Linked DNA regions of Homo sapiens. The protein of the gene in region 1 purifies or fractionates together with the protein of each later gene. This does not show direct contact. Each region holds a gene or a part of one and is shown on either strand. Other genes may lie near its edges.

What was found.
Region 2: the proteins of SDHAF3 (region 1) and BOLA3 purify together in Homo sapiens (affinity purification with mass spectrometry; one large-scale study listed by BioGRID and IntAct). This does not show direct contact.

Annotation. Positions count from the first base shown.
Region 1 is NC_000007.14:97,119,831-97,124,810, reverse strand, and holds part of SDHAF3 (succinate dehydrogenase assembly factor 3, mitochondrial precursor), read right to left. Parts: intron 1-4,980. UniProt on the Homo sapiens protein: Plays an essential role in the assembly of succinate dehydrogenase (SDH), an enzyme complex (also referred to as respiratory complex II) that is a component of both the tricarboxylic acid (TCA) cycle and the mitochondrial electron transport chain, and which couples the oxidation of succinate to fumarate with the reduction of ubiquinone (coenzyme Q) to ubiquinol.
Region 2 is NC_000002.12:74,140,995-74,145,974, reverse strand, and holds part of BOLA3 (bolA-like protein 3), read left to right. Parts: intron 1-671; coding exon 672-786; intron 787-3,614; coding exon 3,615-3,703; intron 3,704-4,980. UniProt on the Homo sapiens protein: Acts as a mitochondrial iron-sulfur (Fe-S) cluster assembly factor that facilitates (Fe-S) cluster insertion into a subset of mitochondrial proteins. Probably acts together with NFU1.

The sequences.
Region 1 (4,980 bases):
ACCAATAATAGACAAACAGAGAGCCAAATCATGAGTGAACTCCCATTCACAATTGCTACAAAGAAAATAAAATACCTAGAAATACAACTTACAAGAGACACAAAGGACCTCTTCAAGGAGAACTACAAACCACTGCTCAAAGAAGTAAGAGAGGACACAAACAAATGGAAAAACCTTCCATGCTAATGGATGGGAAGAATTAATATTGCTAAAATGGCCATACTGCTCAAAGTAATTTATACATTCAATGCTATTCCTATCAAGCTACCATTGACTTTCTTCACAGAACTAGAAAAAAAATTACTTTAAATTTCATGTGGAACCAAAAAGGAGCCCGCATAGCCAAGACAATCCTAAGCAAAAAGAACAAGGCTCAAGGCATCACGCTACCTGACTTCAAACTATTACTACAAGGTTACAGTTACCACAAGAGCATGATACTGGCACCAAAACAGACATATAGATGAATAGAACAAAACAGAGGCCTCAGAAATAACACCACACATCTGCAACCATCTCATCTTTGACAAACCTGACAAAAACAAGCAATGGGGAAAGGATTCCCTATTTAATAAATGGTGCTGGGAAAACTGGCTAGCCATATGCAAAAAACAGAAACTGGACCCCTTCCTTACACTTTACAACCAACTCAAGATGGATTAAAGACTTAATCGTAAAACCTAAAACCATAAAAACCCTAGAAGAAAACCTAGACAATACCATTCAGGACATAGGCATGGGCAAAGACTTCATGACTAAAACACCAACAGCAATGGCAACGAAAGCCAAAATTGACAAATGAGATCTAATTAAATTAAAGAGCTTCTGCTCAGCAAAAGAAACTACCATCAGAGTGAACAGGCAACCTACAGAACGGGAGAAAATTTTTGCAATCTATCCATCTGACAAAGGGCTACTATCCAGAATCTACAAGGAACTTAAACAAATTTACAAGAAAAAAAAAAAACCCATCCAAAAGTGGGCGAAGGATATGAACACACCCTTCTCAAAAAAAAAAAAAAGACATTTATGCAGTAAACAAACATAAGAAAAGCTCATCATCACTGGTCATTAGAGAAATGTAAATCAAAACCACAATGAGATACCATCTCACGCCAGTTAGAATGGCAATCATTAAAACATCAGGAAACTACAGATGCTGGAGAGGATGTGGAGAAATAGGAACACTTTTACACTGTTGGTGGGAGTGTAAATTACTTCAACCATTGTGGAAGACAGTGTGGCAATTCCTCAAGGATCTGGAACCAGAAATACCATTTGACCCAGCAATCCCACTACTGGGTATATACCCAAAGGATTATAAATCATTCTACTATAAACACACATGCACATGTATGTTTACTGCAGCACTATTTACAATAGCAAAGACTTGGAACCAACCCAAATATCCATCAACGATAGGCTGGATACCGAAAATGTGGAACATATACATCATGGAATACTATGCAGCCATAAAAAAGAATGAGTTTATGTCCTTTGCTGGGACATGGATGAAGCTGGAAACCATCATCCTCAGCAAACTAATACAGGAACAGAAAACCAAAAACCTCATGTTCTCACTCCTAAGTGGGAATTGAACAATGAGAACACATGGACACAGGGAGGGGAACATCACATACCTGGGCCTTTCAGGGGGTGGGGGGAAAGAGGAGGTAGAGCATTAGGACAAATACCAAATGCATGCAGGGCTTAAAACCTACATGATGGGTTGATAGGTATAGCAAACCACCATGGTACATGTATACCTATGTAACAAACCTGCATGTTCAGCACATGTATCCCAGAACTTAAAATAAAATTTTAAAAAGTAAAAAAGTACTTCCATTGCAGCAGTAGCTAGGAACAACTACATACAGATGGAAAAAAAAAAAAGAAAAGAAAAATTCCAGCACTATACAACTACTTTCATTCTCTTAACTCCTAAATGTTAATGTTCTATCTTTGACCAACTTATACCCAAAAGGGGCACTTCCACCCACATCTTTAGTCTACCAACTACAGGTAATAACTTCCAAATCTCTGTCTCCAGCCACAATCTGTCTCCTGAGTATCAGACCAACACATATCTCTCTGAACATCTTCACTTAACTGTCCATGAGAATTTTTAGCACAAAGCACACCAAACTGAACTCATTCCCAATCTGTTCCTCCTATATGACTATTCTGGTTACTGGTATCATGCTCCAAACCTGAGAGTTATCCATTCTGTTTTCTTCTCCTTCACTAATACTGTATTAGTCAACAAGTCAAGTTCCACTCTACTTTAAAAGAAAAAAAAAAAAAACCTCATAAATCTATATCCTCCATTTTCAAGGCCTCTGTCTTGGTTTAGGTATATACCTATTTGAGACTGGGATTACTACATCCATCTACTAACAGTTCTCCCTACTTTCAATCAGGCTTTTACTTCAATTATTCCTCTATATTGCTGCTAACATGATCTTTCTAGAATGTAATTTAAGTCATTTCCACCATTTACAAAGCCTTCAATGATTCAAAATAAAAACTTAAAACCCTTAGCAGAATATCCTGTCTCCTGCCACCTCTTTAGCTTTATTTCTTCCTCATCTTCTGCGTAAAACACTAAATTCCAAACACAACACTGCAGTTCCTGGAAAAAAGTCATACTGTTTCGGCCGGGCGCGGTGGCTCACGCCTGTAATCCCAGCATTTGGGAGGCCCAGGTGGGCGGATCATAAGGTCGGGAGATCAATACCATCCTGGCTAACACAGTGAAACCCCATCTCTACTAAAAATACAAAAAATTAGCTGGGCGCAGTGGTGGGCGCCTGTAGTCCCAGCTACTCAGGAGGCTGAGGCAGGAGAATGGCATGAACCTGGGAGGCGGAGTTTGCAGTAAGCTGAGATCACGCCACTGCACTCCAGCCTGGGCGATAGAGCGAAGACTCCATCTCAAAAACAAAAAAAAAAAAAACAAAAAAAAAAAACCAAAAAACCTCATACTGTTTCTTACCTCGATGCCTCTGCATATGTTATTCCCTCTTTCTAGAAGGTTCTCTTTTTGATATGGTAAATTTGACCTACTCAAGACTTAACCATCTTGTGTAGCTTTCAACTTCCTCCATTACTCCTTGATCCCACAGCATTTAATAGACACTCTTTCATACTATATTACAATTGTCTATCCTTTTCTACTAAACTTTGAACACTGTGAAAGTAAAATACATTTATTATTCATTTTTGTGTCTTAAATGCCTAGCACATTGTCTGGAAATAGTAAGTGATCAAAACTATCTGAAAAATGTTTCTGCCTTTTTCTAGAAACAAAACAGTTAAAAAATATTCCACAACAGACACAGAACAGGTACTTAAGAAAAACAACAGGAACTAGGCAAGAGACAACTCAGAAAAATACATGGGACAGAAAAAGAAAAATAAATGAAGTCTCTTCAGGTAGCTCCTGAGAGCACACTCTTCTGTGCTCTTTGTCTCATATTCTCTCACCAACATGTTTTATCTATTTAATCTTCAATGCTTATTCTGATTTCCTAGAAAATAAGTGGTAGGCACAGAGAGAAAAATAGAAAGCCTTAAACAACTATTCCTCAAAAATGAGCACAGTCAGAACTTTTAAAATGCCGTAGTAAGACCCCCGATCTATGGAGTCTCAATTTCACTTCTAATAGTTACCTCCTAAGAGTTGAGATTACAATGCACATTTTACAAACCAGTTATCGTACATTCTCCCTTCATAGATTCCCAAAAACTCTTCCTGAACTTAAATTTTTTCTCTTATGGTGAGAAATTACATAAATTCACTATTTACTCTGTAAACATGCTTTTACATTTCTATACTTAAAATACTTTCCTTCCACGTTGCCCCACTTGGTCCCTGAACAAAAACTTCCCCCAGCTGAATTCTCTCTACTATTATATTGCCAGTTTTCCAGGATCACAAATGAAGAGAATTAGAGAACTCTCTTCCAAATATGGGGCCTCTAGTGTTCTTGATCCCTTTCTTTTCTCCAGTGGCAACTATACCCAACGTTGCCCCTGATGTAAAACAAATTCAGAATCCATTCAAGTCCATAATTAAGTTTAGATGTGTGTGAGGGACTGGGATCGTGTAGACCAGACTCTACATATTAAGTTAGAAGTCCACAACAGTTACTCTTAGTTTGATGTAAACGTAACCATTAAGTTATATTCAAACAACAGGTGCCAAGTTTGTAATGAGCACTAACTGAAAAATAAAGGCATAAAAATCCATGTCATGTCTAGCAGTATCTAGTATAACATAATCATAAATTAGATATTTTGAAGAACAGGTGGGGGGGAAAAAGACTTGGAAGTCTTAAGTATATTACTCTCTGGTGATAAAACTTCTCTAGCCAGGTTTTTCTCCCCTCCAATCATTAGCATCTTCTCTAGCCCTACTCTTTCAAAAAGACCAGTTCTTCAAGTATCTTTCCTGGTAGGATCCAACCTACCACGTCTAACTCCCAGGCTTAGATTAAGCTGCCTTGTAACTGTGATAATTATGTTATACAAAGAGATTACTACGTTTAAATTTATCTTTACCCAGCTGCCAATTCATTAATTCCAGTAGATCAACAATGGTCGGGGAAGACAGGAAAACTGTTCTCTACAGACGCGTGTCAACTAATAAATTCAGAAGGAATGAGGGAAACAAAAGAGCCACCATTGGAACACAATGGCAAAATCCATCAATGAATGCTAAGACTAGTAATCATCTGAAAGCCTGAGAGTACCTACCCCCAAATATGTATTAATTTCAAAAGAGAAAATAGTAAGTTTACAGTAGAGACACCACGTGGATTATTACTTTAACCAAGTGATCACAGTTATCATCACCAGTAAGAAGTCATGTTAGTATCATGTGCCCTCTGACATTAAGTGTTGAGGCGAACACTTTGCCCATGTGGTATTCTTACTGAGATGTTATGAAATGCATAACATCAATTTAACCATGAGAAA
Region 2 (4,980 bases), on another chromosome or scaffold:
CCCATGGTAGCCATTGGGGAAGGGGTGTTGTTGCCAATGGTAAACAACCTACAGATACTCCTTCTTCAGGTTCTTTCATAGAATTCTGACTTTGCTCCCAGTGAGAAGGAGTGCATGATGAAGGATAGCTGGCTAATTGAGCAGTGGGCTGTGAGGTCACATCCCACTGGGGAGGGCGAGACATGTTAATCAGGCCTAAAGGCGAGGGAGTGTGGAATTTGGCCCCACCATCCAGGGCAGTGGATGGCCTAGTGGTATGGATCTGAGGCAGGCTATCCAGCTTTTCTGGCTCTGTATCTTACCGAATTCAACCTTGGGCACATTACTGTGTGCCTCAGTTTCCTTACCTATAAAACTATCGGCATAATAGTGTCACAACATTATATGGAAGCAAACATCTCTTGAATTAGGTTTGGGGCCTCTTGTCTCTGGAGTCAAATTGAGTTATTAACAATCATCCTGTCCCCGCCAATAAAAGTTTATTCTGTGTTTTGGGGCACTTACATGGACTCCTGATACCACAGAGCCCCTCTGACATAACCCATGGCTGTGCTGGCGAGGGCTCAGGGGCCTGCCTTGCAGGGGGAATGGCAGGCGGGCCTGCACAGTGGCCCAGCTCAGGGGCAACAGCATCTTCCTCTGCCCTGACCTTCCTCTCTGTTCTGTGGCAGCTTCCACTTCACCATCGGATGTTTGCCACTCAGACTGAGGGGGAGCTCAGAGTGACCCAAATTCTCAAAGAAAAGTTTCCACGAGCTACAGCTATAAAAGTCACTGACATTTCAGGTAAGGTTTCTCTCACTCTTCCTACGGCGCTTGGATAAGATTTTGCCCTTTGGAAGGACAGAGGGTCAGGGGCTTGGAGGAGGGGGCTTGCTGCTGGTGAGTGGCTTCTCAAGATGTGTTGCTGCTGGACAGGTGGAGCTCGGCTGCCCCCACCTCATGGGATGGCAGTCAGGATTCAGAAATATCAGAGGGAAACTGAGGACAAGGCGCAGCTGGGAGGACTCAAGGTTGCCAGCCTGGCTCAGCTCAGACAAGGTCCCTCTCAGTCACCCTAGAGCTGAGGTCCACAGTCTGTCATTTGACTTTGAATAGGTTTTGCTCTAATTTTCCCCCATTCTTCTGACACCCTAGGATATCAGAGCTGGAGTGGACCCCAGAAAGATTTTCTTCAGCTGCTTTACTTTCCCTAAGAGGAAATGAGCCCAGAGAGGCCAAAGGAATTGCCTAGCTCCTCATAGGGAAGAGACAGTGGAACTGGAACCAGAACCGGGACTCAGGGGAGACTCTGTCCTAAGCCCAGTTACCAGCCCCAGCCAAGCGCTGTCCTTCTCAGGTGGCCACTGGCACCTAGAAGTTCAGGCTGGCAGTGTGTTAGGAGCAGGCTGGAGAAGCAACTTCTGCATCCACAGGATGGGGAAGATAGGCCCTTTATCCACACACACACACACACGTACACACAGAACGGCCCGTGGCGTGGGCCGCTGGATAGGCATCAGTCTGAATCTCTCCATACCCAGAGGCAGCCTTTGCCACTCAGCATTGCCATGAGGGCTCACTGACTTTACTGAGAACATAACATTTCCAAGGATTGAGGAGAAAGTTTAGAAAGTAGATTTTATTCTGGAAACCACAGGAAATAAATCAATCTAAAGATCTGCTGGGGTTTTGGAGCAGTGGCTCATGCCTGTAATCCCAGCACTTTGAGAGGCTGAGGCAGGTGGATCACGAGGTCAGGAGTTCAAGACCAGCCTGGCCAACATGGTGAAACCCCCCCGTCTCTACTAAAAATACAAAAATTAACTGGGCGTGGTGGCACACGCCTGTAGTCCCAGCTACTCAAGAGTCTGAGGCAGGAGACTTGCTTGAACCCGGGAGGCGGAGGCTGCAGTGAGCCAAGATCATGCCACTGCACTCCAGCCTGGGTGACAGAGCGAGACTGTGTCTCAAAAAAAAAAAAAAAAAATCTGCTGGGGCCAGGCGCGGTGGCTCATGTCTGTAATCCCAGCACTTTGGGAGGCTGAGGCAGGTGGATCACCTGAGGTCAGGAGTTCGAGACCAGCCTGGCCAACATGGTGAAACCCCATCTCAACCAGAAATACAAAAAAAAAAAAAAAATTAGCCAGGCATGGTAGCAGGCACCTGTAATCCCAGCTACTCAGGAGGCTGAGGCAGGAGAATCGCTTGAACCTGGGAGGCAGAGGTTGCAGTGAGCTGAGATTGCACCACTGCACTCCAGCCTGGGCGACAAGAGCGAAACTCTGTCTCAAAAAGAAAAAAAAAATCTGCTGGAATGGTACATCAGGTGAGGGCTCTGCAGGAGTCTTGGGGCAATGCTGAGGCCTTGATGTTACCAGGTCCTGAACTTGCCCCAGGCCCAGGGCAGAGTTAGAGCTTGACTCAGCTGTGGCTCTGCGCAGTCCTGGACAGAGTGCAGAAGGGGAGTTGAGGCTGAGAACCTGGGTTTAACCAAAACTTGGACTCCTAGAGCACATTATAAGAAAAACAGAACAGGCCAGGCGCGGTGGCTCACGCCTGTAATCCCAGCACTTTGGGAGGCCGAGGCGGGTGGATCACGAGGTCAGGAGATCGAGACCATCCTGGCTAACACGGTGAAACCCCGTCTCTACTAAAAATACAAAAAAAAAATTAGCTGGGCATGATGGTGTGTGCCTATAGTCCCAGCTACTCAGGAGGCTGAGGCAGGAGAATGGTGTGAACCTGGGAGGCGGAGCTTGCAGTGAGCCCAGATCGTGCCACTGCACTCCAGCCTGGGCGACAGAGCGAGACTCCATCTCAAAAAAAAAAAGAAGCAGAGCAAAGCCTGTTGAGTACGTTGCACCTCTCACACAATGGCCTGGCTCTGTAAATCATGCAGGGGACATATTCTTGCCCATGTTATTTCATGCTAGAGCTGTGTGTTTATCATCAGTCATCAGCACCAGCTCTCCAGCCAGGTGGAGGAAAGCTCAGGCAGGGGGTGGATGGCCCACCAAGCTCTGCCTCGAGGGCTTCACCAAAAAGTTCTCCCCCCAAAAGCCAGGATGAAATCCTGGATGCTGTGCTGTGGACCCAGCAGTGCCAGAGACAGCCCCGAGCAGCTCCATGCATAGCATGTTTGCTGTGTCCCTGGCTCTCATGCTCCCCTGGTTCTTTCCTTTCTTTGGACAGTATTACACAGTTTTCAAACCAAATTGTAGTGTATTTTTGCACTTCAAAAACACTGATTGTTGGTCCTTTGGAAGCTGGAACGCTGAAATTCCGTCCTTCTCATCCTCTTCCGTGGCGTTTATTGGCCTAGTGAAAGGAAACACTCTACACTCCCTAGGTTGTCCATGCTTTGTGCCTTATCTTTCCTGCCCACAAGTGGTAACCCTGGGTGGTGCAGCTGCCTCGCAAAAGGAAGAGCACATTTTGGATTGTGGCAGCCTGTCAGGAGGAGCATGTGGTCAGATTGGAAGCCATGATCTTTTCCTAATGGTCTTAGCAACTTTCCTTTGTGCTGAATGATAATATTCAGACCTTTGGATTGTACAGTACTTCAAGGATATATGGGACCATGGCTGCCATGACTTAATAATTGAAATGCTTTTGAATCATGTTTATTTTAGGAGGTTGTGGGGCGATGTATGAAATTAAAATTGAATCAGAAGAATTTAAGGAGAAGAGAACTGTCCAGCAGCACCAGATGGTTAATCAGGTCAGTAGAGGCAACAGTGCCCCTTGCCACTGGCCTTCAGCCTCCAAAGGGGCCTGCCAAGCAGGGATGGTGGTTTTTGCCGTCAGTTGCAGGAGAGAATAATGCAGTACTGCAATCACGAAACAGGACTCAAGACCTGAGAAAAATCGAATCTGGGAGTATCTGCATTGTGGCAAATAGGAATTTTATTCAAAATTGAAGACAGGCCTCCCAATAGTGATTTTGTATGTCCTCGTATAATGCTACCTATGTTTACTGTTATTGTCACATATTGATGAGTATATCTAAACACAGACACTGCTAAAAGATACATGTTTTTGTAGATCTGAAGAGGGGTTTTTTGGCCTCTCTTTGGGACTGCTTTACAGATGAGTCAGTTGATGCATGGCATGAGTGAGAATGGCTGCAGCTGCCCCAGACCCAATGACAGAACATTTGGGTTCTGGAACATCACGTTCAACCAGCCTAAGGCTCAGTTTAAATATTATCCATATTTATTTTAATTTGGAATTTATACCAACTTTGACCCTTGTACCTGTACCTATGAATTTGCCCCCTCACTGGGTGTGTTTGGCATCGTTCTGGAAGGTCTTGCCATTGTGAACTAGTGTTATTTTTGTAAAGCACAGCACTGGTAATGAGCGTCTCTTCGGTGGCCTCTCATGCATTGAGTTCAGGTGTCCTAGACTGCTGTTCACGCATTTCCCCCCACCCTTCTCTGCGTGCACCCTCCCAGCCGGCCTCTGCCCGCTGGTCTCTCTCTTTCTCTATCTGGGCCTTTGCCCAGATTGGACCTTCTGCCTGGGTTGCCCTTCCTCCCGTCCTCCACTCAGCTCAAATGCTGCCTCCCCTCCCTCCCCAGCAGGGAATGAATGCCGTTCCCCCACCCTCCCCGGCCCCCTTTTTTGGCTGTCGGTGTTTTCCGTCTTGTGTCCTGAAAACGGACATCTCTGCTGTCTGACCCTGCAACCTGTCAGCCCTTTGTGGACCAGTGCCCTTTGGGATCCATCTTTGTGTTTCTCATGGAACGTAGCCCTTTGCAGTGGATGTGACCCCTACAGCCCTAAGGCATGCTGGTGGTCTGCTGGGTGCTCCATCACTGAGCCCTCCCGGAAACTCTTGCAGTCCCATGTGATCTCTGGGGTCAGAATCAAGGCAGAAGACAAGACAGGGAAGACCTGGCTGGCCAGATGATCCCCAACCCGTGGCACTTTGGGTTTTATTCTCAGATCTGTACAAGCCACCTGGTGTGACTGGACCCATAGGTGCTGGTAATT